4 linked regions of the Homo sapiens genome follow. The protein of the gene in region 2 interacts with the protein of the main gene of each other region in a biochemical or structural test. Each region holds a gene or a part of one and is shown on either strand. Other genes may lie near its edges.

Evidence for each region.
Region 1: the proteins of MBP (region 2) and TLK1 form a complex in vitro, tested with the Homo sapiens proteins (2 studies listed by BioGRID, with this or other methods).
Region 3: of the proteins of MBP (region 2) and MAP3K3, one has a biochemical effect on the other in vitro, tested with the Homo sapiens proteins (one study listed by BioGRID).
Region 4: of the proteins of MBP (region 2) and RPS6KA5, one has a biochemical effect on the other in vitro, tested with the Homo sapiens proteins (one study listed by BioGRID).

The regions. Positions count from the first base shown.
Region 1 is NC_000002.12:171,045,884-171,052,908, forward strand, and holds part of TLK1 (serine/threonine-protein kinase tousled-like 1), read right to left. Parts: intron 4,292-7,025; coding exon 4,181-4,291; intron 4,068-4,180; coding exon 3,931-4,067; intron 480-3,930; coding exon 291-479; intron 1-290. UniProt on the Homo sapiens protein: Rapidly and transiently inhibited by phosphorylation following the generation of DNA double-stranded breaks during S-phase. This is cell cycle checkpoint and ATM-pathway dependent and appears to regulate processes involved in chromatin assembly.
Region 2 is NC_000018.10:76,982,763-76,989,787, reverse strand, and holds part of MBP (Golli-MBP), read left to right. Parts: intron 1-875; coding exon 876-911; intron 912-1,260; coding exon 1,261-1,293; coding exon of another isoform or gene 1,294-1,698; exon of another isoform or gene 1,699-2,085; intron 2,086-4,577; coding exon of another isoform or gene 4,578-4,584; intron 4,585-4,893; coding exon 4,894-5,013; intron 5,014-5,635; exon of another isoform or gene 5,636-6,061; intron 6,062-7,025. UniProt on the Homo sapiens protein: The classic group of MBP isoforms (isoform 4-isoform 14) are with PLP the most abundant protein components of the myelin membrane in the CNS. They have a role in both its formation and stabilization.
Region 3 is NC_000017.11:63,688,394-63,695,418, reverse strand, and holds part of MAP3K3 (mitogen-activated protein kinase kinase kinase 3), read right to left. Parts: intron 6,893-7,025; coding exon 6,825-6,892; intron 6,631-6,824; coding exon 6,538-6,630; intron 6,327-6,537; exon of another isoform or gene 6,244-6,326; intron 5,876-6,243; coding exon 5,684-5,875; intron 5,156-5,683; coding exon 5,007-5,155; intron 4,947-5,006; exon of another isoform or gene 4,427-4,946; coding exon of another isoform or gene 4,382-4,426; exon of another isoform or gene 4,339-4,381; intron 4,318-4,338; coding exon 4,186-4,317; intron 3,687-4,185; coding exon 3,557-3,686; intron 3,178-3,556; coding exon 3,000-3,177; intron 1,871-2,999; coding exon 1,642-1,870; 3' UTR 1-1,641. UniProt on the Homo sapiens protein: Component of a protein kinase signal transduction cascade. Mediates activation of the NF-kappa-B, AP1 and DDIT3 transcriptional regulators.
Region 4 is NC_000014.9:91,057,642-91,064,518, forward strand, and holds the start of RPS6KA5 (ribosomal protein S6 kinase alpha-5), read right to left. Parts: upstream 3,001-6,877; 5' UTR 2,794-3,000; coding exon 2,691-2,793; intron 2,484-2,690; exon of another isoform or gene 2,377-2,483; intron 1-2,376. UniProt on the Homo sapiens protein: Serine/threonine-protein kinase that is required for the mitogen or stress-induced phosphorylation of the transcription factors CREB1 and ATF1 and for the regulation of the transcription factors RELA, STAT3 and ETV1/ER81, and that contributes to gene activation by histone phosphorylation and functions in the regulation of inflammatory genes.

The sequences.
Region 1 (7,025 bases), on a different chromosome or scaffold from region 2:
CCAAAACTTTTAATTGATTCCTAACTGATTCAGACACAGAAGGGTGAATTCTGGTAACCTCTTAGCTACCTAGGTCTCTGTTTTAAAAGAGAATTGTTAAATCTCTGCTTAAAACGGTAGAATTCAGATATTTGGGGCTATTAATTTAGAGCTAAATTTTCAATACTGCCTTCCTTCCTGGTCTTAATCATTTTTGCTATCTAAGTATTAATTATAAATAACATCCATTAGTAACATTCACGCTCACTGGCAACAATTTTAAAAAAGAAAAATTTTAAATGGAGGCTTACAGTTGTGGTAAATTTGGTCTAACAAAGGGATCATTCTCTGCTCCATTGACTGCTTTGTTTTTCCTTTGTTTTGGTTCAGAATTGGTAGAGGGTGCCTGAGAATTATTAGCTGTGGGAGGTTTGCGTTTGGCTAGAAGTTTCCTTTGCCTTTCAATATCTTCCCTTTGCTGATTCACCCATTCTTGTTGCCTGTGTAAAAATAAACAAATAAAACCATATTAACCTTCCATTACTTTTCAAGGCTAAACTTGGAAAAAATGCATAAAAAACATGAAAAACCATAAAATATACATTCGTAACCTTTTGGTTCCACTCTTGTGAACCAATTTGTACTTATCCTTCAGGTCTCATTTGAAAGAATTTTTTTAAGTGAGGTATTCTCTAAACCCCTAGATTAGGGAAAGATGTGTTGCCATATATAATTTCATGGGATCTTCTATCTCCCCACCTCACTCTTTCTAATAAATATTATTCCTATAGATACTTTATCAGAAAGTGTCCGGTTAGATGACATCACTCCCTAAGAACACAGATGGTGTCTATTTATACAGTATTTATACTGTTGTATCCCTAGTACCTAGTGTAGTGATCATCACTTACCTTTGCTCAGTAAATGTTTCTTGAATGAAATGAGATAAAACAATACCCCAAACTATTAAAGTATGGGGTATATGTTACACATGCATCTCACCACAGTATTTGCAAACAAATTTACAAAAGGCAAATATGAATTTAATGTGAAGAGAGTTATTTTCTAAATCTACTTTTGTTAAAAAAAATTGGTAATGGGAAGTTGGTGTTTTGAAATGAGACAAATTAACCTTAATATAAGAAATTTATGAGAAAAATTTTTTTGATAATTTAAGGGGAAAAAGACAAGAAAATAGCAAGAAAAATTAGCATGGCTCTGAAAAATGGGAAAGTAACAAAAATAAAATCAATGCTTCCCATTCAAGAAACTGAAACAATTTTGCAAATAGCTCCCTAATTCTAAAAACGAATAGATACCATGTCTATTATTAAAATGTAGATTAGATATTTTAGCAGTTTGAGCAGAGCATAAAGTAGTTAACAGTGAAGCTTTTTAAAACCAACTTATCATACAACACCTTAAGCTTATTCTAACAGTAACCATGTTCTCTTTCAGGTCACCTCACTATGCCAATAAAAAATTTTCAAATCCTACATGGTTACAATACTTAGAGCAAGTCAAATATTTCATGCCCTCCTCTCCCCAACCACTGACATCAACTAAAGGGCTCCTACTTTGCTAATGCAGAATTGACCTTACACACATCCCCTTCCCTATGGTTTTAGTGATAAAGTAGCAGAATATGATAGGAGTGAAAAAAATCAAGAAGAATCTAGGTAGAAGATTGAAAGGGTAGAGAAAAATCTCAAGAATAGCAAAGTGAGAACAAGACTTTAATCCGGTTTTCATTTAGAAGCAGGAATAAATTTCAATTTTTAATAAGTAAATCTTAAGGCTATTTTAGGGCACAATCAAGATGGTATAAATGCAAATAAGCAATAATAATCCTAATGATTAAAATATTAATGGAAAGTAAAGAATTACTGGAATAGATATTAATAGCTGATTACTCAGGGATGACTATACAGTTTAGAGATTAATATTATTACTTTTATTTATTTCTCTTCTCATCTTCTAACCACTCTGGATTATATCACCAATTATAAACGGCTTGATATACACACAGTAGGTCCTCAATAAATGCTTATTAGTGAAAGTCAGGACATACAAGTAATTATTTTCTTTTTTGACATTATTTTTTGAGACAGACTCTCACTCTGTCGCCCAGGCTGGAGTGCAGTGGCATGATCTCGGCTCACTGCAGCCTCCACCTCCCAGGTTCAAGCAATTCTCGTGCCTCAGCCTCCCGAGTAGCTGGGATTACAGGCGCCCACCACCATGCCTGGCTAATTTTTGTATTTTCAGTAGAGACAGGGTTTCACCCTGCTGGCCAGGTTGGTATCAAACTCTCAACCTCAGGTGATCCTCCCAACTCGGCCTCCCAAAGTGCTGGGATTACAGGCGTGAGCCACTGCACCTGTGGCCTCTTTTCTGACAGTTAAGAGGAGAAATTGGAACTACTAGTAGAATTTATATTTCAGAACATTCATATTAATTATATAACTGTCTCTTTTATTCATTGCAGGACAATTGCCGGTCTGGGTTTAGTAGCAGAGCCTCTTGCTCATAAACACTAAAAAATTATCTTCTCCTGCTTTCCACTTTACTGTTGATATGTTAGTTCATGCTTTAATCACCTTTCATCTGGATACCCCTCCATCTTAACTACCAATAACATTCATCCTCTAATAATATTTTCACATTACCATCAGTTATTATTCTACAACTATCACTGTAGATATCATTCCGATCACGTACACTATATGTAAACCTTTAACAAGTCCCATTATCTGCAGAATTGAAACCCAAACTCTCTAATATCACAAGGACATTATCCTTTGTTTCACTGTGGTATAACTAGCACAGATATGTTGAAGAAAAGTTGAATAAATCTGCTGAGAGAGAAGGCCATTCTGTGGCAAGTCCTAGGAGGCAGTGTTTGAACAGCAATGTTGGTGTGATACCATGTGAAAGTAAGTTCTGCCTCTATTTCAAATAACTGGATACTCTGGAAAAGCTGATGTTCATGCTGGCATTACTCCCCATTTTCAGGTTTAAAAAAATTTTCCACCAAAAACGGAGTAGCATATTTAGCACTCCTTAACACATAAACAGCCAATAAATCCTTTTCTACCACCATCTGAACTCAAGAAAATATGGTAACTATAATTCCTCTGTTTAAAAGTTTGATCTGAAAAGTAACAGAAAACCAAACACCGCATGTTCTCATGTATAAGTGGGAGCTAAACATTGGAGACACATGGACATAAAGATGAGAATGATAGAAACTGGGGGCTACAAAGATGAAGGAGGCAGAGACAGGGGCAAGGATTGAAAAACTACTGGGTACTATGCTCACTACCTGAGTGGTGGGTTCAATTGTACCCCGAACCTCAGTATCAAGCAATATACCCCTGTAACAACCTGCATATATATTCCCTGAAACTAAAATAAAAGTTGAAATTAAAATAAATAAATAATAAATAGAGTTTACCTCAGAAACGCTAAAGCCACATGTTCAGTTTAACTGATAAATCAGTTATTATATCTGAGGCAAAAGAGAAGTTTTTTCCCTTAGGAATAGAGAGCAGGCAAGTGCTGAACATTAACATGTAAGGATTGGGGAATGGGAAAAAACTAAGTAGGAAAATCCTAGGAAATAAACACACACACAAATCTTCCAGTGAAAATTAAATTTTCAACAATTTCCCTCTCAAAACATCATCTGTAAAGCTAAAGGTTCAATTAATATCTCGGAAAGTCAGAATTAGAATAATATATTACATTCTATAGATGACTGCTAATTAATCAAGAAATTACTAAGCTAAAACTGTAATACTCTTGGTTTCATATCCCTTTCAAAGGTACTAAATTCTATGATTTCAGAGTAGCGAGGAACTGGAGAGCATAATTACAAATCTATAATCTTTTAAAGTAATGAAAACCCAAACGAATACTAAAAACTTTTAAATGTTAAGAATGACTAACTTCACAAGATTCTGAAATGCAAAACCATCTGTCCATTGTTCAGTAAATGAAGCGCCATGTCTAACTGTTGTAAAGTGCCCGAGGCGTAATCGATCTTGCATACTCTTCTCTCTGCTTGACAGCTTTTCTTGTGTACTCTGAAAAGGAGAAAAAAAATCATCACTCAATTGTATTCATTAATTTATAAAAGCATACAAAGCAAAAGGGGCTAATGAAGGGAAAGCGAAAATTTACTCAACTTTTAGCCTACCTTTTCAATAAGAAGTTTCTTGCTCATTGATATGCACTTATTTAATCGTTCTTTGTATTTTTCAAGTAATTTTTGTTGTTCATCTATTTGCCGTCTGAGATCACAGTTAGCCTATGACATAAGTAGAAAATGCAAGAGGTCTAGACTGGGGAATATGAAAAGCTTAGAAATAGTTTTAATGTTCTAAATAAATTATATACAGATAGGACTAATAATATTAAATATCTGAGTATGATACGAGAAAAAAAAAAAGCCTACTTAACCATGAGATAATACTGTTAAATGTTACTTAAGTGTGTAGTGGAAAGTACATACAGGGAAATTTGTATCCATATCCATACATTCAAATCCATACTCTAAGGTTAACTTTGGCTAAGTTATAAGAACTTTAGTTCAGCTTTCTTATTTCTAAATAGAAGCAACACAATCTACCTCACTTTGTTAAAAATAACTAAAATATGGTATATAAAGTGTCTATCACTTAAAAATAAATGTGAGTTTTCCTCTATCTCTTATAATTAACAAATTAAATGTGGGTTTTCCTCTATCTCTTATAACTAACAAAATATTTTCTCCACTGAACTTATAAATGACATACACAAGTTGCCTACCCAACAACTGTCCTCACCATTCTTCCTTAGCAATAGGATACTAATTCTGTTCACTTTGTAGGTGGCCATATGCTCAGAGAAGAGGCTTCCTTCTAACATCAAAAGATGAGTCTGATTAGTACAGTGGCAAGAGAATAACCTATAGGGCTTGTTACAACAGATTACTGGGAACCATTCCCAGAGCTTCTGAATCAGGTCTCAGGAAGGACCTGAAAATTTCCGTTTCTAATAAGTTCTCCAGTAATACTGATGCTCCTGGTCTGAAGATCACACTTTGAGAATCAAAAGTCTAGGCCAACCATGGTGGAATCCACAAGACAAGGGCACAAAATCTTAAAAGTGCTGAGAGAAAAGAATTGCCAACCTAAAATTAGATACCCAACACAGTTGTTTTTCAAGGAAGAGGAAACAGAATTTAGCACCAATAGACCCTCAGCAATTCAAACAAAATCTCAACACTGTGTGTGTATGATGCATATGCAACTTGAAACCTGATTCTAAAATTTCTCTAAGACTGTGAAGGGCCAAAAATAGCCAAAAAGAAGAAGAGGATATCTGTTTAACCATGTATCATGACTTAACATAAAGCTACATAACTATGATCACCCAAGCCTCCTCCTTCCTTAATAATGGAAATTCAATGTTTTATCCTGGATTGCTATCTGCCTAGCCAAATGACTACAGTTCCCAGCTTCCCTTAGAGCGAAGGATGGTTAATGAGATGCAAGCAGAAGTTGTTCAATGAGATATCCAAGAAGGCTGCACACAGAATTGTGCTTTGTGTTCTCTGCTCCCATCCTCCCTCCTGTTATCTGCTTAGAACACAGATATAATTGTGACCCTAATAGATATATTGAACCTTGATGTGACCTTTGAGATATAAGCCATGAACTAACAATGACAAGGTCCCTTATGATACTGAGGAGTAATAATATCTGAGCTGCCCACTTCTGTTCTTCTCTTGAAAAATAAGCTTCTATCTCATCTGAAGTACTGTTATTTATGTTCACTGTTACTAACAGCCAAAAACAACTGATAAAAATTGTTTTATCAACAATGATAAAAAGATGCTGCAGTACTTGTGTAGAGACACAAACAGAACAAGGAAACATGATACAGAACACAGAAACAGATCCACCTGTATACTGGAAACAAGATTTTATGATGATAGAGCTGGCAGTATAAGAATGAGCTTTTAATTAAATGGGGATGAACAACTGGTTATCCATATAGAAAGAAATTGAAATGAAACCCTACATCATGCCATACCCAAAACCAATTTCAGTAAGACTAATAATTTATATTGAAAGATCAGCTGGGCATGGTGGCTCATGCCTATAGCCCCAGCACTTTGGGAGACCAAGGTGGGAGGATCACTTGAGGCCAGGAGTTCAATACCAGCCTGTAGACTCCCAGCTCTACAAAATAAAAAAAAATCAGCCCGGAGTGATGGCATGAGCCTGTAGTCCTAGCTACTTGGGAGCCTGAGGTAGAAATATTGCTTAAACCCGGGAGTTTGAGGCTACAGTGAGCTATGATCCCCCACTGTGCTCTAGCCTGGGCGACACAGTGAGACCCTGTCACTTAGCGGGGGAAAAAAAAGACCAGACCAAAAAACCTTGAGAAATAACTGGTATTATACAGTAAAATGGAAAATGCGTATGCCCTGTACTCTGGCTATGTCTTTCCTAAACATATACCACAGAAAAATTCTTTCATATGTGCCCTGAAGACATGTACAAAGAATGTTCTTAGAACTGTTTATACTAGAAAAAGTAGAAATAAAATGTCAACTAAAAGCAGAAAAGATACAGAAATTATGGTATACTTGTAACACCTTACAATATTGCAATGAAATGAACAAACTACAGTTATACTCATCAAAGTGGATGACTCTCTGATATATTTCATTGAAAACAAGCTGGGCAAAAGGGTCCATACTGGAAAATTTCACTTAACGTTCAAAAACCAACTGAAATAATATGTTGTGAAGAATGTAAGCACATATTTAATACAACCATAAAGAAACACCAAGGCATCACAAATACAAAATTTAAAATAGTGGTTAAATGGTAAATGGGTGTGAGAAAGTAAATATGACAGGATCAGGAAAAAGACACACTGGATGTTTTAAAGACACTGTCAAATACAGTAGGATCACAGGTGTTGGTTTTATCGAGTTTCTACACCAGTAGTTCTCAATGCTGTCTTAAATTAAAGTTATCTGGGAGAGC
Region 2 (7,025 bases):
GCAAGCGCTTCCCGACTGTATCTGCCACGGATTGCACCGTGCGCTCCGTGCGTTCTCCAGAGAGCTCACTTCTCTTGAGATTAGGCTCCCATGTAACGCTTAGCCTAAAAACACAGGCTTTGCAACCTATGGAGAGTGCTTGCCATGGGCTGGGAGCGGAGGGGGCAGCAGAGAGAGCACAGGGCATTTTTAGGGCATTTTTCGGGCAGCGAAACCGCTCTGTCGAGGCTGCCATGGTGACTGAAGACCACGCACTTGTCCAAACCCACAGCGTGCACAGCACCGAGAGAGCCCTAAGGCAGTGTTGCTAATAAGGGAAACTGTTCGGGGTATGTGGAAACTAATTTCTGCACAGTTTTTCTGTAAACCGAAAAGTGCCATGCAAAACGAAGACGATTAAAAACAAGAACAAAACCACAGGCTTCTAATTCCAAGATCTCAGTGCAGCAGACATTTTATGCTCGTATTCGATAAGTGCACTTAGGAGCTGCAGACCTGGGGACATCCCCTTGGAAGCTCTGAATGTCAGAGGGCCCGCTACTCCTAGCCCCGGAAAGGGCTCACGGTGAAGCAAAGTCCGCCGCCTCCCTCAGTGTCCCAAGATGGGCCCATTCCCCAGCTACGGAGCCTCTGGGAGGTGTTTTCCATCCTCTGAAACACTTCCTGAGTGCTCTGGGAGATCTGCATCATCTAGAATATTTTCAATCTCAGGTCTATACTTCTTCACCAACTAGGACAGAAGTGGGGAGGCTGGGCACCCGGGTGCTTCTGGCAGCTGATGGATGCTAGCCACCCTCAGCAGGCAGGAGCCCGTTAGGAAATGGACGGCGGCACAGGGCTCCCAGTGCAGCCCACGGTTCTCTGTGTCTTTCCAGGTGACGCCTCGCACACCACCCCCGTCGCAGGGAAAGGTAAGACCTTGGAATGTTTTGATTGATCATCACTTTTCTGATAGACCTTCTCTAAAATCCCATAATGTACCAAAGAGAGAGTTAGGCTCCGAGCTACCAGAATCCATCCCAAAACGTGTTGCCAGGCAGCTCCCAAGTAGAACAGGTCGGCAGATCCATGCACCCCTCCTGTCCCTCCCGCACCTGCACAGCCGCTGTGGCCCTGAGCCTGCGGCCCCCCTCGGAGCTCCGGGTGGAACCTGTTTTTACCACCTCAGCTCCACTGTGCTTTGACTGTGTTTCCTGTTGATTGAAAGGACTTTCCCTTCACTGACCACCATGTCATTATTTCTCTGTCTTCCTCATGCAGGGGAGAGGACTGTCCCTGAGCAGATTTAGCTGGGTAGGTGACGAACGCACTTCCATCGGCTTCCTCTTCCGTCCCAGTCCTCACAGCCCCGCAACTTTTGTGTTCTGCTCTGTTTCGGTTGCTTCCTGGCCTCCTTTTCTCTCCTCTCGAGACCTCTCTGCCCACAGCTGGGATCGGGCCGCCTTGTCTTCCACTGGGGAAATGAAACGTGGTCTTCCCTTCCGGAAGGTCTGGTCTCTTGCTTCTGTGCCGGGGACCCAGCCCTGCAAGGCCAGATCCTCTTCTCCCAGAGGGTTCCCAGGCGACGTGACTGGTCTCCCTCCCAGGGAGGGAGCAACACCACGTCCGAGAAAATGTTTAACTTCCTCCAACACAACCAGTGCGAGAAGCCCCAGGAACCCGCATGTGGAAGTGGGACTGGCTGGCCCGTCTCAGTGACCCCAGATGCTGACACTGGGAAAATGATTCTGCTGATGAACAGAAAAAGAGGCTAAATAGAGTTGCTCGATTTATAATAACCTCATTAATCCAAAGATTTTTGTTTTGTATGTGTTTAAATAATAATTAAAACATAGATATCAAGCCATCCAGAAAATCTTCCTTAGGAATTTTAGGCTGGTTAATACTGAAAGCAAACTTTCAAGGAAGGTTTAAAATGGCCAATTTGAACTTTCTAGTGAAAAAATTTGGTGTCTGAGCCAAATTAAAATGCCAATCATTATATTCTAACCAAACTTACAGACTTTAGTTACTAGCAAATACCAGATATGATTCTTACTGTATAAAAGTTATAATTTTAGAATAAAATGGAGGAATAACCACCAACGTATTGTAGATAGGTTGTGTCTGTCTCCGAAACTGCAATGCTCTCATACGCTAGAACAGAGCCTACCTACACTTTCTGCTCAATTAATAAGCATCATATAAATGAATGAATACATTTTAAAAGAAAAACAACAAGGAGAAAGAACAGGAAGAAAGAACAGGGAAAGAAAACAGAAGGTGGGGAAGAGGAAGGAAGAGAGGGAGGAAGGGGCAGGGTACTTGAGAGACCATGAGGATCCCAGATCAGTCCCACACATGATTACACTGAATTATGAACTAAGATATTTACCGAAACGTTTTCCATTAATGCATATTTGACTTGCTTTTTCTGACCTAATGAATTTGCAAAACGATGACAATCATGTAGCAAATGTACATGGACTAGTACTCACAATTAATTTTTTATTTTCTATGCCAGCAGGAGACAAAGATGATAGAAGAATGAAATTCATTTTTGACCCAGAAATCTTATTTTAGCTACTGCTTTATCTGCTCTTAATTTTCTAGGAGTGGACTTTGGGGCCGTCGTGCCGGATCCTCCCTGAATGTGGAGCGATGGGGGGTTGCACACAGGCCGTTCTGCCCCAGCAGCTAACAAGAAAGACCCTTGCATTCCTCCCTGCATCTCTCCCTTTTGGGTCCTACTAATGTCTGTTGAATTTCTCTTTTTTCCAAAGCAAAATCCTTCTCTGCATTTTGTCTGCTTGTCTGTTTCCCAGAGCCGCAGGACTCTCTCCTTGTCTGGAGTTCCAGAGAGCCCCCACTTTCTCTTTCTAAGCTGTGTTGTGTGTTTCCTGGTACATTCTAGGTTCCCCAAAGATAAACATGACTAAGGATTGGAAAGGAGGAAAGGCCGCGCAGATTGTTAATCTGAAAGTCAATCCCCGGATTTAGCTCTCAAAAATGCTTTATTTTTGGAGAAAAGCAATAGAGTAAGACAGAAGGACTTAACGCTTGCAGGGAAGTGGCTTTCTGCCATGTAGAGCCAGGCTGGCAACCTGCCCTCTGCCATCAGGGAGTGAGCATGAACCTGGAAACCTCTAGGACGCAAGAGCGAGGCTGGCTGTCCCCTCGTGTGCAGTGCTTAGACCTTCTTGCCACACATCCCGTCCCTCACCTCACTGGATAGCCCCCGAATCAACTGTTCACACGAAAGCAGCTGCCTGGTTCTGAGTGGCCATGCTCACTCCCAAGCACAGGCTGAATGAAAAGAAAACTGTGCAAGTAGCTTGTATGGTGGGAAGCCCCCAGCAGAGGCTGAGGGTGCAGCCAGGTGCTCTGGAAGCCTTGAGGCCTCTGGTGTCATCTTCCTCACCTCTAAATAAGAGATGGGCTAGGTTGGTCAAGGTCCTCCCTGTCCTAAAACACTTTAATGAAATGGAAGAAAGGCTGCAGGCTGATAGAGGAGGGACAGTCTGGTTTGGTTCCCTCAAGTCTTCAGGAGAGGGCTCAAGGACAGTCTCCCATTTCTTGTTGGCAAAATGTAAAGTGCAGTCTGGACCCTGTCCATTGAGTAGAGACTCAGGAGGCCAACCAAGATCCCTGAAAAGCTAACAGCGTGGTCAGCCTTCCCACAGACAGTGCACCCACCGTGGGAGGACACTTCGCCCCCCATTGTTAACGTCCACCGCGCCCAGACTCCCACAGCGAGCTCCTTCCCTTCCTCCCCATGTTTGCAGTGGAGTTCCCACTCGAGAAGACAGCACAGTAGCAAGTAGAGGCTGGTCCTGGGACACTCGCACCCATGTGTGTCAGGAAGCCCCTGCGGTCACACGGCCCATGAGGAAGCCAGAGGGGCTGCTGGGGCTGATGAGGCCAGGGCAGGGCGGCCTGCTCTTCCATAAATGACAGCTGGCACCAAAGCCCAGAGCTGGCAGCCTCCACCTGAGGAGTGGCATCTCCATGAACGGCTTGTGTTCTCGCACAGCCCCATTGCGTAGATGAGGAAACTGAAGCTCAGAGAGGTTCCTGCCCTTGCCCAAGGCCACACAGCCGGATGAGCTAGAAAGGTGCTAGGGGACTGGGAGGTGGGGGAGCTGAGACGCTGTCCCGCTGCTGCCAGGATGCGGCCGCCCCCCGTGCCAGCCAGGCCTGCCTCCTCCCTCTGTCCGGCTCAGCAGCCCCGGCCTCCTGTTGCTCCCAGTCCGAGCTATGGCCAAGGGAGACTGATTCCTGCTCACCCTGGGAGAGAGCTCAGGATTTTGTCTCAAAACCTTATAAAAGATACGAGGCTCGACATTTTACTAAGGCCGAGGACTCTTGATCTCCCAGACAGATCCTAGAACCACAGGGCACATGTGACCAGAATCCAATCTGTGCAAATCAATCAGCAAAAGGAGCCCCCAGCAAAGGCGCAGGCCGGGGCCTCCGGGGACCGGCACCTACACAGCGCACAGCCCCCCAGGGTCCGAGTCCTCCAAACCCGTGTAGGCAGGAGCCTCCTTACCTTGATTTGCTTGATGTTTGCTAATCTTCTCTTGAACACCCCACAGCGTGAAGGTAAGCAACTGTTCCCTAAACGACTTAGATCCTTAAAATATGTGTGGTTGGGCCGCATATCTCATGAGAGAGCCTCCGCCCAAACCAGAGCCCTCCTCTCTCTGCGGCCAACACCCTGGTAGACCTGGGGGAGCAGCCTCTCCCGCCCCCACCCCCTCAGCGTGGTGCTGGCCCGTGGCTCCTGAACCACTCACCAGTCCAGTCCGGGGCCTGGGCCCTTCCCCGGGGCCCTGGTGGCAGCTCCCAGTGGCTCAAGCAGCGTGCCCAGCACCGCGGGTGGAGGTTGAGCTCCGTGGTCTTCTCTTGCAGGGGGCCGAAGGCCAGAGACCAGGATTTGGCTACGGAGGCAGAGCGTCCGACTATAAATCGGCTCACAAGGGATTCAAGGGAGTCGATGCCCAGGGCACGCTTTCCAAAATTTTTAAGCTGGTAAGGTACCCTCTGCTCAGCTCCACTGAGCGGGGACTAAGGGCTCCCAGAATCCCCAACTAAGCTGAGTACAAGGGTGGCTGCCGCCTCTGGCTCAGCCGCACTGTACCCTGGACGTGCTCTGTCCCAGCAGGCGTGCAGGGGCTCAGGTGGCATTGCCCACCCGCATTTACGCGTGGATTTCCTCCGAGATGCATGTGAAGCCGGAGGTGCTTGAGGAAGGGCTGCGCCTGGGCTGGTTCAGGGGCCCTGGAGCAGGCGACTGACCTTGACTCTGGGGCAGGGCCCAGCTGGAGTCCAACTTGCTCATGCCCAGGGGTTGGGGCCCTCAGGGAGCTAAAGCAGGAGTCAAGCAGACGTGGGTGTCGGGGGGAGATCCCTGGAGCCACGGGAGGGAATGCCCAGGAGACCTCCAGGGAGTGGGGAGTGTCCCGTCGGCTCATGAGGACCTGGAACCAGACCCAGGACGAATGCCAGGCCCGCTGTTTATAAGCTCTGTCTCTGAGACTTGGTTTTCTCATCTGTAAAATGGAGGTAACCCGCCCACTCAGCTCACAAAATCGCTGTGAAAGTAAAAGGTAGTGACAAACACAAAACGCGGCTGGCAGGTGCGCGGCTCGGATTCCTTAGATAAGCAGTCACCTTTATTATTGTTAAACGTCACCCAGAAAACCCTTAACTCTTAGACAGCGGCTCTCATTAAGCAAAAGGGGAGGCACATGAAGCTCCAGGCAGGGCCGGGAGGGAACCGTGAAGCCAAAGGCTCTGGGAGCCCCCAGGCACCTGCGTTTGCATTTTCATCCTGGAGGAGACCAGGCTTCTGGGGCTGCTCCCCGGGGTGCAGAGAGGAGGGGTCTTTCTTGGTGTGTAACATACTCATTGATTCAGTCACCTGACCTTTGACTCCATGTATTTTGTTGAGTCTGGATGTGTGGTGTGCTCTGCCCAGCAGCGGGGATCCACATGAGCACAGACATGGTCCCCCCGCGTCCTTGGTGAGTGCAGAACCTCTGCCGTGAGCCTCGATTCTGGGAGGTTCTGGGAGGTTCTGTGGACAACAGGCAATTCAGGGCACAGCCCCTGCTCTTAAGGATAGCCGGTCTTAGGAGAAGCTTTTAATATGTGAAGTGAGCAGGGAGTAACTGAGCTGCTAAGTAAGCAGCTTTATGTCAGATGAAGTGGTAGGCAGGATCCACTCCTCAACGTAAATTCTGAGTTAAGAAAAAAATTCTCCAAATATTCAAGTCTCAGGGCCATCATGCTGTACATTGCCGCAGTTCTGGGATGTGGCCACAAGAGGGCGGAGATGAGGCTCCCCGGGGAGCAGTGTCTGAACCCAGCACTGCAGTCAGGACGGCCCCGCCCCACCTGGCCAGCACGTCACCTGCCTCTGAATCGCCTGGGATGCACGCCCAGACCCCTATCTGCGCTCCGCCACAGCCTCACTGAGTCAGAATGTCCAAGGGCGAACTAGGTGTTGCTAGTTGTGATGATTTTGCAGACACCGTGCTCACCTGGGAAACACGGATTCATCCCATCTGGAAAACTAATTACTCCACTACCAGCTTAAGGACTGTTAGACACACCGGGAGAGCTGAGTGCTGGCTCAGAGTTGATGGGAGGGCCCAGATGAGTGAGGGGCCCCATTTAGCAAATATTGTCCTTGCAATATATGCAAGGCTTACAACCAGTCACTCAAAGATGCTTGCAAGGCCAGAGCTTACCAAGACCACCCTGAGGAACAGAAAGCTGCATTTAGATCTGCACATTTACTGTGTGCAAATATAACCAGTGTACTATACACATGTGTTTCCTGAAATAAGTTCAGTATTTTCCCTGAACTTTTTTGTAAGAAGCTTTTAAAAATTATTTAATTTCTGTAGAGTTCAAGGGAAGCTTCTATGTATCAAAGCAAATTTCAAATCATATGGTTGTAATTAAATTTTACTGCATAAAAAGTTCATAACTGGCCTACTATGGCCATATGGCTGAATTAGTTGACTTGGAGCACT
Region 3 (7,025 bases), on a different chromosome or scaffold from region 2:
TTCTGCAAAACCAGCTGCTTTCATTTTCTCTTCTCTCTCTTGAGGCGTCCGTCACCTGTAACAGTCTAGAATTGATATATATAAAAACCATCAAATATGATCTGAGATATAAATTAACAAGTACAAGGCCTCACATTACATGATGTGAAAAGGCTAAAAACAGCGATAGAAACTACATTCATAAAAGTGCATCGTCAACATACAACGAAGGCTTTGGCTTGTTCTGTGCCCATGGGGATGTAGGCATGGCTGGCAGGGCTGCCTGGCACTAATCCCCAGCTCCCTGGAGATGCCCATCCCTGGGCACTGGCTTTTTTTTTTTTTTTTTTCCTTTAATGACAACTCCCAAGGAAACTGGGTGTTGAGAGGGAGGAGCTCTAGCAATAGGCACATTTTGGAGGGGAGGGGCCGGAAGAAAGGACCAGCGCCCAGGCTGAGGTAAATATGGCCAACTCTAAGCTGCTTGGAGATGCTGTTTCCCCAACCCCTGCTGCCATTCCCCCTCCAGGGGAGGAGCTACAAGGGAAAGGGGCTGAGACCTCAAGGGGATGGGCGAGGCTGGCTGAGGAAGAACAGAGCTGGCGGTTTTGGACACAGCTGGTGGTAGCATATGGGCTTTCCCTTCTACCAGATGGAGTGGGCTCTGGCCTAGCAGGTCACGACTCAGGCAGCCTGAGACACCTCCTCGGGCTCTCTGGGATCAGGGCACTGGCCAGGCCAGATGCCCCGACCGTGTCGTCCATCTCCCCTTCTGCTCCAGTGGGGAACAAAGGCTGGGCCAGGAGCGCAAAGGCCACAACCTTCAGCTCTTTTCAATGCAGCCTAGGCCCAAGCCCAAAGCAGGGGTACTCAGAGCCCAGAGGGCACACACAGTCTCCAGTTTAGAAACTGGGTACAGCATAAGAGTGACTCCAACTTGTAAAACAGAGACAACTGCATTGACAAAACTGGATCCCCCCTCAGTGGCAGCAGTTCCACATCGCGGGCCCCTGCCTGGGAGAGGCAGGGTCATGGCCACAGGCAGGACAGGCTCCTCCTTCCCTGAATAAGGCAGCATGACATTTGCTTCATTCATCTTTGGTAAAGGACAGGACTGGCAGAGCCAACCTGGGACTCTAGGGGACGGCAGCCTGGGCCTCTGCCTGCCACTGCTAGCGAGTGCTGGCCTTTCCCTCAGGCTTGTGGGAGCTCATCCAGCCCAGAGATGCCCTGGTGGTCTCCAGACATTGGAAGGAAAAACAAAATAACACTTTGAATGAAAATAACACTCTTCATACCCTGGCGTCAGTCTTGTGCCCCCAGACCCTCTGGGCTTCGGTGCCAATTGCAGTGTCAGGACACATCCCCGAGGGTGGGGCCCACGGCTGCCTTGCACACTGTTCCCAGCCCCTACCCCTCCACGCTGAGCTCAGGACACTGGAGCTCCTGGATCTGACAGGCTGGGGGCTCCCAGTCCTGAGGCTGCAGCCACCCCACCCCGGCTCTGAGCCCCAGTGGCGGAAGGGGCACAGACCGACGCTGGCTGGGCTGCCACTCCATGGTCCACAGCCTTGCCTGGGAGAAGCAGCAACTTCACTGAGCCCAGCAGCAGCCCCCTGCCATGCAGCAAAGGGCGACCGGCAGCTGTGTGGCCGTGAGAGCTCAGTACATGAGCTGTGCAAAGTGGTGTGTGAGCAGCTCCTCAGCTGAAGGTCTCTGGCGAGCCTCCACAAAAATGCGCCTCAGGAAGTCCCGGCCATGTTCAGAGATGTGGGAGGGCAGCTGAGGATTGGTGGGCTGGGTGGCAATCTTGAAGATGGCGGCCATAGCTTCATACTCTGCCCACGGTGGTTTCTCTGTCAGCATCTCCACCACAGTGCAGCCCAGGCTCCTGGAAAGAGAGAACCCCGTGTCACCCCTCAGCCAGCCCTGGACTCCCAGCTGTCCTGCCCACCACTGCAGAAAGAGGCGCCTTTCTCACAGCAAGCTGAGGTGCAGGACAGGCCAAGCTGAGGGATACCTCAGCTTGGATGTCTGTCCACGTGGGCTTCATGGACCTACACTCACCACACACCTGGGTACTTCTTGAAATAAGGAAAAAGAGAATCACTTAGACTTGACAGAAAGAACTCTACAATAACTGTATTAGCTACCCATAGCTGCTCTTAACAAATGACCACAAACTTAGAGGCAGGAAAACAACACAAATGTATCATCTTACAGTTCTGAAGGTCAGAGGTCTAAAATCAGTCTCACAGGGCTAAAGTCAAGGTGGCGGCAGGGCTGGTTCCTGTCAGAGGCTCTGAGGGGAGAACCTGTTTCCTTGCCTTTCCTGGGTTCTAGAGGCCACCTGCATTTCGTGGCTCATGGTCCCCTCCTTGTATTACTCCAACCTCTTGCTTTCATTGTCTCACCTCCTATTAGCCACTCTGACCTCTTGAGACCCTTCTGTAAGGACCCTTAATCCAGGATAATCCATCCATCTCAAAACCCTTAACCTAATCCTATCTGCAAAGGCCCTTTGCTATATACAATCACATTTACAGATCCAGGGATTAGGCAGTGGACATCTTTGGGGGGGCCATTATTCAGCCCACCACAATAGCTTTCCAAGGGGAGAAGCTCTCCTGACTTAGGGGCCATTTCAGAGGATAGACACAAGGTTATGTCGAGCAAGTGCAAACTGTCTTGAGTGCTAGGAGAAGGGACAGAAGCCTGCTCCTGTTGAGAGACTGGTCCAGGCCTTCAGGCCTTCAGAGTGGATCCTGCTTCCTTAAGAGATTTAGCAAACATGAGGGATGTTTTCCATGGCCTAAGTTCCCAGCTCTAATGGAGTGTGCTTTGAGCACCACCCATGTGGTGTGTGTGCTACTGCACCCAATAATACCCTTGCACACACTGCAGCCTGGGCCCTGGGCACACTCCCTCCTGCCACACCACAAAGTCCCCAGGGTGTGTTTCTAATGGGGGGCCACTATGGCCTGGGTGGAAGAATGGGTTCTGCATGTCCCAGTGCTCACCACACGTCTGCTTTCCTTCCATAGCCCTCGCCGCTGATCACCTCAGGGCTCATCCAGTAGGGTGTGCCAGTGACGGAGCGCATGCCCGTCCCCGACATACAGATCGTCTGCAGGCGTTTGCTGGCCCCAAAGTCCCCCAGCTTTACATTCCCAGCAGAGTCTCGGAGGATGTTGGCTCCTGAGGCATGAAAGGGCAGAGGCTGCAACCCTGGACCCTCTTGCATTTTCTCCCATCCTCCCCACCCCCGGGTCACTGAGAGCTGCTGGAGAGGGCAGGGCTACCACTGAATTAGACATGAACTGCAAAGGGCAAAGGATTTAGCAAAGGGGAGTCTCAGATCTACCGCACAAAATGACCATCTCCAAGGCCCACATGTAGAGGGAACTTGGCAATATTCTCTCATATTGCTCAACCAATCTCACCAGTTCCTCAGGGAAACAACTGGGGTCCCACTTTTCAGAAAGTTCAGAATGGTTAAGTGATTGGCCCCTGCAGGCACTCAATGGTAGACTTGAACCCAGGTCCTGGGGACTCCATGTATCCTGGCCCTGCTCACCCTTAATGTCCCGGTGAACAATCATGTTGCTGTGCAGGTAGGACATGCCCTCCAGGATCTGCCGCGTGTACTTTCGGGTCACGCTCTCTGTCAGAGCACCGTAAGCCTTCAACTGGTCTTTCACCGAGCCCTGGAGGCCACAAGAAGTCAGAGGAGTCCCCTCAGGGGAGGGCTGGTGGAGGGGCAAGCCCATTCCAGCCCCCAGCATGGCAGCAAAGGAGTGATTTGTTCAATTCCTATCTGGCTGGGCAGGGCATTTTGCCAGGAGCTGTCAGGCAGTTTGGAAAAGAGAGTACCCCAAGTCCTTCTCAAGCAGAGCGCCACCCAAATCCAGGAGCAGGGAGGCCTCTCTGCTCCAGATGAAGGCTGCATTTACTGGACAGTGGGCCAGCCCTGCATGCCTCAGGGGAGTGCTGGACCTAGGACAGCTGTCATCTCATACTCCCACTGCAACCTGAGGCAGGGCCCTCCTGACTCCAAGTCCCACCATCACCTCACTTTGCTCCTCTGGGCCTCTGGAGCCTCAGGTGTTCAAACTCCTATCCAAGGTGACCCCCCTCCTGCAGGCCCCAGCCCCCAGGTCAGGCCCTCTTTTGTGTGTGTCTCACATGCATTCAAGGGGCACGTACCCCTGGCATGTACTCCATGAAGATGGTCAGGGTCTTCTCAGCGCGGTCCCGCAGACAGCCATAGTACTGCACGATGCGCTCATGCTGCAAGTTCTTTAGCAACTGGATCTCGCACTCCAGAGCACTCACCTCCTAGGGGAGGGGTCAGTGGTCGCCTCAGCTCTCAGGGCCCTAGTTCTGCCCGCCTGGGTTCAGCTCAGCTTGCCCTAGTTAGTGGCCTCACAGGGATCTGCCTTGGGAACTGCAGTTGGAGAAAAGGGGGACTCTCTTAACTGTCTAGCTCTTGGCCACAATGCTGGGCAGGCCTTGGGATGGTGGCACTCCCATGGGTGGAAGGAGGCAGGGAGGTGGGAGAAGGGGCCGTGGGTGCTTAGTTAAGGTAACTGCTGTTTGTCCACAGAACTTGAAGTATAAGCGACGTTGAAAGCTGAACTGCAAAGACAGGCCATATGATTCCTCCTCTAGAGCTGGACCAAGTGAAGGAGCCCCACAGCTCCTTCCTGGGCTGAGAGCTGGGGAGAGATACTTGTCTAGGGGAGGGAGTCCCCTCTGTGTCACAGGTCATCACCTCTCAGTTTGGGTTACTTGGTACTTTGGCATCAGCTTAGTTCCTTACACCCAATCCCTCCCCTCCAGGTGCTTGGTGCTCTTCAGACCACAGTCCTTTCACCCTGTGGCTGGGACCAGGATGGACAGAAAGGGAGTTTGGGAAGAATGACAGAGGAAGCAACCTACAGCATCTCAGGCAACTACTCTGTGTGGTAAGACAGGCATTTTTGTTGAAAGGAGGGAACTGAAGTCAGACCACGGGTTAAGTGTACCTTGCTTGTCTCAGGACTGTCTGGATCAAATTGGACCTGCTTGGAAGCAAGTTCACGTCCCGTGTCCACGTCATAGCACAAATAGACCCTGCCGAAGGCACCCTGGCCCAGGAGCTTTCCCCGGCGCCAGTTGATGGGGGCACTGGGAGCTACAGGAGAGCAGAAGGAAAGAGTTACTTTGTGTACATTATTTATGAATATCCCATTCATTCTCCAGGAACAGGGTCTCTGGCTCAGGCTCCCCCTCACCCAGCACCCATCATCTCTTAGTAGAGCATCTCCACCACAATCTGGAGCAAGCCCAGTGCCCTAGTCACTCGGACCTGAAGTCAGAGTCCTAAGAAGCAGAGGATTGGCTGAAGTCATGGTTAAATGCTCTTCTGCATTGATCAAATGCATTTCCTTCCAAAGCCCCTAAATATCTTAATATGGCAGGGATGAAGGGTGTGCTCTTCCCTAGTTTAAACATGGAAAAACTAAAGATCAGAGAGGAGAAGAGGCTTGTCACACAATAGTGGAGCCAGGCTTCAGACACTCCAAGGCTTATCCCATGTGGTGCATTTGGGCCAAAGCCACCACCTGCTGAGCCTAAGGGTCCCAGGGGCCCAGCTGTTTGCCCCCGTAGCTTGTCTGAGACCACCTGGGCAGTCTCCTCCTAGCCAGGGACAGCTCCTCACACTTGGTTGGCACATTCCTCTCCTGCACAGAGAGGGCATTCTCGCTGTCCGCACTCCGCAGGCGCCCACGGGGGTCCAGGTATTGCACAGCCAGACCCATGTTCTCGCCATTTGTGCTCAGGGAGCGGCTGGAGGGCACCAGGGTGAACAAGTTGCCTTGATGACGCCGTATTCGGGGAAATGTTCTTCTGCCTGAAAGGGTGCAAGGGCCAGAGGAGAGCAAGTCACACCCCAGGCTACGAGGCGGAACGTACAAACCAGGTCTGAGACACCCCGGGCTACAAGGCGGAATATACAAACCAGGTCTCAGCCAGAAGTGATAGATAATACCAGCTCCAGCCCATCCCGTCCGCACTCCCACCTGACTCATTCCACAGAGGCTGCTGTCCCAAGCACTCCAAGAATCAGGACAAAAGCAGAAATTAGGAAGTAGTCTGGTTCAGGGAGATCTGGCCAAAGGGAAGGTGTATGGCTGGCCAACAGGCTCCCAATTGCTTGCAAGGCCAAGCCACACCCGAAGGCACTGATTTCCTTGTATCCTACTCCTTACCCCTCTACAGGGCCCAGGCCACCTGCTGCTGTGGGGCAGAAGAGGACATGGGAGAGATGGTGCCCCTGGAGCACACCACTGGCTTCAAACAAGGTCAGAGTTCCCAGTGGCAGCATCTGGTCTACAAATACTATCTTCCCTGTTTTTGTTTTTGTTTTTTTCCTGTCTCCCATGCCTCAAGTCTGGGCCACAAATCCTCAGGAATGAAGGAAAATACAGGCACTGCATGGACGAACCCACCCTCCCCATGGCAACTTGTCCTTTCTTGAGGCAGCCAGCAGGGAGCAGGTGAAGAAGAACTCACCATCACTGTAGTCCTTGTGGTGCACAGACACGTGGTAGCGCCGGGGGTAGGTTCCACCTTTGACCCCTTTGTCATAAAGCTGAGTTTCCCGATCTGAGTAAGACAGGGGAATCACTGGCTTCTGGGTAGGTCAATGTGAGCCACTTAAGCCCCCAAGTCCCCAAGGCACCTGAGACCTCAAAGCAGCAAGCCCAAGGAGAGCTACTGACTCAGAAAAGTCGAAGCAGAGCCACCTGAGGCCCCACCCAGACACCCTGCATTACCCACCCAGGCTCTGTGGAACTCACCTGAGTATTCCTGTCTGTTGTCAGGGAAGCTCTGGGCACGGGACATTCGTGATTTCCGGAAGGATGGGCTGGAGAAAACAAAAAGAAAAAACAGACTCCCGCACACTTCCACAGCAACCAAGCAGGGCGTCCAGGCAGTCTCCCTTTCTAACCCCTGCCACAGCATTAGGTGGGGGAAGCAGATTTTGCGGGAAATAGCCC
Region 4 (6,877 bases), on a different chromosome or scaffold from region 2:
CAGGCAATGTGACATAGGCTAAACACTAAATGAGTGATTTGTTTCCCAAATTACACTGGATTAATTCACACACTTCAAGATAAGATACTATTATGGAATGATTTTTATATATACATTCAACCAACATTTCCTAAGGGCCCACTATATGCCAAGCAACCCGCTTAGCACTTTTCCAACAGTGTCTCATTCAATTCTCACATTTTATAGATTAAAGATGTGAATCTGAAAGGGTGAAGTGACTTGCCGATGTCTACATATTAAGCTGCAGAGACGGGATTTAGAATCATGTCTTCCAACTCCATGTCCTTTCATGGGACGTTTTTTGCTTTTTCATTCATCCTATGGAATACAATAAAGTGTTCTGCACAAATGAGCCACCACCAACTGCCAGCCTGATATAACTAGATGCTTATCTACATTCTGAGACGGGACCATATCAGATCAAATTACTCTGGTGCCTATTATAGATCATGTGCTGAAAGAAGTGCAGTTGGCTGAAGATGAGCAACTCTTTCAAGTTATATTTTAACAGTGTTTTTGACCACTATATCCGGTCAGTTGTTCCAGTGTTCAGTAATAAATCAAAATGATTGTTCGTTTCCTTTGACAGTTAACAGTACTAATGAATTCAGTATAATCTCACCATCCATCAGAAAAATTTCTAAAATGCGAACTTGAAGCTGATGATTCACACAGTTAGAAGAGAGGGGGAAATAAAGCAGTACTCATTGTTTTCTACAAAACTAGCATTGTTTGCAAAATCCAGAAACCAAGCAGTTGGTTAACTACTAATAACAAGCAGGTTGCTCCTTGGTCATTTAGCAAAAAGCTGCTTGTTGCACCACAGTCGATGGCTGAGAAGCATATGACTTCAAGTAGCTTTTGCTGTACAGTAGGATTCCATACATATAAATCAGTGGATCGTTATGTAAGACAAGAAAAAAATTCAAAATCTTCACACCAGAAAGCACCTGACACTGAGTGTGGCACAAATCCGAATAAATGTATACTGAGTAAACCATGTCAGGGTCTTTTGAAAATATCAGTTGTCTATGAAATTGAGAGAAGAAAAACCAAATCACCTGAATTCATACAGGTTATGTTAGGAACTCAAAAATATGGAACAGCTGGCTCAAGATGTATAACAGATTCACAATGACCAAAAAAACAATGTTTACAAATGTTGAATTAAGAAGCATGAATTTGACATCTCTCTTGAATTAAGTCACCACACTGGCACCCAATGGAATGCTTATAGGCAATCTCAGTAGAAATAACAAAAACTGAAAGAACTGACGGACAGAGCTAACTTTCCAATCTGTTCAAAACAGAAACAAGATGTACTAGTGGACACCTGAATCCTGCCGTTTAAGCTTTTGTGCCTTCACAATTAAATAATAACCCGGCCGGGCACGGTGGCTCACGCCTGTAATCCCAGCACTTTGGGAGGCCGAGGCGGGCGGATCACTTGAGGTCGGGAGTTCGCGACCAGCCTGACCAACGTGGAGAGGACCGCCCCCCCCACCCCGCCCCCACAAAAAATACAAAATTAGCCGGGCATGGTGGCGCATGCCTGTAATCCTAGCTACTCCGGAGGCTGAGGCAGGAGAATCGCTTGAACCCGGGAGGCGGAGGCTGCGGTGAGCCGAGATCATGCCACTGCACTCCAGCCTGAGCAACAAGAGCGAAACTCTGTCTGAAAAAAAAAAAAAAAAATCCCAATATGCCAAAGCAGCTCTGTCAAAAACCTTCAACGCTCACAAACATATCTAGTAATAACGAACGACTCATTAAAATGTACTATCTGTTCAGAGAAAAAAGTATTAATATATCTACAATACGAGACTGGGCTCCAAGAATATAAATCCAAATTGTACTGATTGGTCTGAATAAGCATTTTCCAAAATGAACAACCTGAACCTACACCACGAATACATTTAATTAGTTATAAAGCTTAGGACAACGCTAGTGATCTCAAACATTAGAACGTAAGCGCTGAAGCCTGCTCGTTAGTTCCTTTTACCTGGAGCTTTAAATTTCTAAAGCCATCATCTCCAGGGACCTCTGAAGGAAATTCAAGGCCAAGTATAGTATTTCATGATAAGTGAGAATAAAGGCACTCAATCCCTGGAGCCGGCGATTCCTGTTCCTGTCTCTAGACTGGACTCGGTAAAAGCCCGAGGCGAAACCTCCCGTTTATCTCCTACAGGACCCCAGCACCTTAGGGGATGGCTCCACAGAGCCCCACCGGGACCCCCCATCGCGGGGACCAGAGGGGCGGAGGAGGGAGACACTCTCCAAAACAAAGCGCCGCTCGCCCCACGCGGAGGCAGGCGCACCTTTCGCCCTGACAGGACGCAGACACACGTGTGTCACCTGTGCGGGAAGGGGGAGCAGCGACATCCTCGGAGGTGCGTGCCACGGGCAGCGGTCGGCGGCTGCGCTGGCCCCGATGCCTGGTGCCCGCCGCTCATTCCCGGGCTGGGGAAAACTTTCGGCCGCCTCCCCCAAGGCGCGCCCCCACCTCCCGGGACCCCCGGGGCACGCGCCCCGACCGCGACGCCCCGCCCCAGGCCCGCCCCTCCGCGCCCACGGCTGCGGCCCCGCGCCCCCAGCCCCGCGCGGGCACCCGCGTGCCCTCAGGCGCGCCCCCGCGCCGGGCCCGGCCGGCAGAGGGCGGGGTCGCTCACCAGTCCGCAGCTCGTGCTTGACAGTGAGGAGCTGCTCTCCTCCGTCGCCGCCGTCCGCGCTGGTCCCCGCGGCGCCGCCGCTGCTGCCACCCTCCTCCTCCATCTTCTCCTTTTTTTCCGATCCCGCGGGTCGCTACGAGGGGAACCCAGGAGACAGCGGACGCCCGTCCCCTCGCAGCCGCTGCCGCGGCCCCAGGAGTCGGGGTGCGGCGGCTCCAGAACTCGGACGCAAAGACGAGTCTCTTTCCCGCTCTGGCCGCACGGCTCGCTCCTCGCCTCCTCCCCCTTCGGCGGGCACCGCTAGTACCGCGCAACCAAACCGCCCCCTGCTCCACCGCCGCCTCCTCAGGCCGCTCCGCCCACAGCCAGCAAGGTAAGGGAGCCATTCGAGCCGCCTTCGCTGATTGGACACAGGGCGCGCGCGTCTGCCAACGCCGGTTCCCATTGGGCAGTACGCTGTGACGTTTCACGAGCCTCCCCGCCTCGCTCCTCGAATTGTTGTTGCTTGGCGGGGAGGCAGGAGAGGGAGGAGCGCCGCCACTCCGATTGGTGAGACCCAAAGCTCTGCCCCGCCCATTTCCTCTGGTGCGCACTCGCAGTCAAGACCTTCCCTTCCCTGACCTCCCCAGAACGGTCACACCCCTTATTCCCCAGCTTCGATCTGTTAGTAAACAGTGTCTAGTAGTCAGGAGGCGCTCGGGGTCTCTGATTGGCTACTGCCGAAAGAGGCGGGGAGGGATGATTGGAACGTTTGGTCCGCCAATCACCGTGGACAGAGGAGGGGCCTGGAGGGTAGCGCTTATCACCCACGTGTTTGCAGACAAACCTAAGGGTCCCGGCAGCGATCCATGCGTGTGTGACAACCAGCGAGACGGCGTGCCCTAAAAAGGTCTTACTCGCTCTAGTGAACCCTAAACAAGTTAAGCAGAGTGTTTGTTCTTAAATAACAGATAGTTCTTAAACGTTACAAAAATTCACAGTCCCAGCTCCCGATGAGGAATTTTACGAAGGAGAGACATTTCTGTTTCGTACAAGACTCTTACTAGGCGCCGAAAGGATGCAGAGATTAACAAAATAGAATACAATTCCTCCCCTAAGCAGCTTTCAATAGAACGTGAGAAACAATCTGTGTGTGTACACAAAAGAACTATAAAGCAGAATTTGAAATAAAGCAGTCGTACAAAGCGTTAGAGAATCTCGCACGGATGGCAATAATTATTCCCAGACGAGGAACTGGGGAAAGCTTTTAGGGCAAGGAGGCATTTGAGATAACCAACGTAAAGGATGGATAAGAGAGAAATACCAGCAATAGACATTCCACACAGAGAGAGTAACTGTGAGCATTGGCCTACAGCAGAGAAGGCAAGGGTGGGTTAAGTGATTGATAAGGTTAGATGAAAGTATGATGTAAGAGATACAGCTGACAAGGTGAGGTGTGGTAAGATAATGGGGAACTAGGGATGCTGTGCTGAAGAGTGCAGATTTTTTTTAGTACACAGTGATGAACTGAAAAGAGGAGAGAGATAGCAGGGCAGGAATCCTGCTGCAAGGATAGAACTAAAGGGAACCTGATTTCTAGTAGCAGACACGAGAATGGGAAAAAGCAGAAACTTAAAGATGTACAGTTGGACGTAATTCAGATAGATGTGATCTTTTAAACTAAGCATGGATTGGATCAGGAGTCAGCACACTTTTTTCTATTAAGGGCCAGATAGTAAATATTTTAGGATTTGCAAGCTGTATGACCTTTTTCACAACTACTCAGCTCTGCCATTGTAGCGCAAAAGCAGTCATAGACAATAAATAAAAGAAGTAGCTGTGTTCCAATAGAATATTTTTTATGGACATTGAAATTTGAATTTCACATAGTTTTCATGTATCGTAATATATTCTTCTTTTAATTATTTTTGAATCACTTAAAAATATAAAAACAGGTCAGGCGCAGTGGTTCACACCTGTAAGCCCAGCACTGTGGGAGGCTGAGGCAGATGGATCACCTGAGGTCAGGAGTTCAAGACCAGCCTGGCCAACATGGCAAAACCCTGAATCTACTAAAAATACAAAAAATTAGCCAGGCATGGTGGTGGGCGCCTGTAATCCCAGCTACTCAGGAAGCTGAGGCAGGAGAATTGCTTGAATCTGGCAGGCGGAGGTTGCAGTAAGCCGAGATCACACCATTGCACTTCAGCCTGGGCAACAGAGCGAGACTCTGTCTAAAAAAAAAAAAATATATATATATATATATATATATATATATATATATATATATATATATATATAAACAATCCTTAGCTCAAGGGCAGTTAAAAAACAGGCAATGAGCCAGATTTGGCCTACAGGCCATAGTTTGCAGACTCCTGGATTCGACTGCTGTGAAAGACAAAACACAGAAGCCTTGCAAGTTCCTTCAGGTTGCTTTCACAGCTCCCTGGGCTTACCTGCCTGGAACATTTATCATCACACTAAACCATGACTGCCTACTTACTTGTCTTTCTCCTGCAAAAGTCATGTGCTATTTGGAGCCAGGCAATGACTGTGTGCAACTGTTCATTTGTTCACTCGAAAACTTTTATACCAGTTATATACCAAGTACTGTAATAGGTGCTAGAGACACAGTGGGAGCAAAACAGATGCAGTCCTTGCTCCTATAGAGCCTACAGTCTAGCAACAGATATAAATATTAATCACATAAAGAAATATAAACTTTCCATTGTGATCATGCTGTAAAGGAAAATTACAGGGTGCTACAATAGAATGTATCAGGGATGCCTAATTTAAGTTGGAGGAGCTGGAAGACCTTTGTAAGTAAGTATTATTTAAGCTGAGACTTTAAAAATGAGTAGGTTTTAACCAGGATGTGGCAAAAAGTAGCCTGATGTTCACCAATCTCATTTCCTCTTCCTAGACACACAGGAAGACTTTTTTTTTTTTTTTCTTACCTCCTTTGCAGTTAGGTTAGGGTCATATGACTATGATCTGGCCAATGGGGTATGGGCAGATCCTATTGGTATGATATATAACATTTTCAGGCCTGACCAGAAAACTCCTTGCATAATCACTCACACTCTTCTCTTTCAACTGCTGTAACAAAGGCCACATTTTTAATGTGGGTATGCCACAGACTGGGAGGACTCTGAACCCCTGAGTTTCCACTTAATTCTTTAAGGAGCCACCTGACCTATGTCAGACTGTGATGTGAGCAATACATACACCGTTTTAGGCATAAGCTAGTTAGATGGGATTATTTGCTACCAAAGCATAATCTAGCCTTATACTACTTCATATGTGTAATATGGAGGGATCAAAATTTTAGGAAGATGTCCTGAGGCAGGCAAAGAGCCTATTCGGTTGAGAGATTGAGAAAGGCAGTGGAGCCTTAATGCAGTAAGCAAGGGATGAGGTTCAGGAGGTGGGCAGAGGCCCGGTCAGGAAGTATGTGGTTGCTCTTATTAATATTTTTGGACTTTATCCTGTGTGAAGTGGGAAGCAGTAGAAGGAATTTAAACACAGGAATGATATAATCGTGGTAGTATTTTCAGAAGGTCACTGAAGTTAGTGTTTGGAGACTGCGCTGGAGAAGGCAAAATGGGATACAAGGAGACCAGTTAGGAGGCTATCACTGTAATCTGGGCAAAAGATGAGAGTGGGTGCAGTAGAGATGGAGAGAAATGGAACATTTCTATGTTTATATTTTGAACTTGAAGGATTAGACTTGGTTAGTGAGAAAAATGGAAATATCTGAAATGACACCAGTGTTTCTAGCGTGAGCAGCTAGTGGCTGGAAGAGGATGGCAGTACCATTTAATAATGAAAGGGACAAATTAAAGGAAGAGCACATATGAGAGAGAACATCAAGAGTTTAATTTTGAGACATCCAGGGCCAAAATTAAGTAGCTATGTGGATATATGAGTCTAGAGCTCTGAAGAGAGGTCTAGCATAGGGATGTAAGCTTAGGAATCACTGGCACATAGATGACATTTGAGGCCAGAGGTACGAATGAGATTACCTAGGGAGAAGCCTGGGTGCGGTGGATCATGCCTGTAATCTCAGCACTTTGGGACGCTGAGATGGGCAGATCGCTTGAATTCAAGACCAGCCTGGTCAACAAGGTGAAACCCTATCTCTACTAAAAATACAAAAATTAGCTGGGCATGGTGGTGCATGCCTATAATCCAAGCTACTCGGG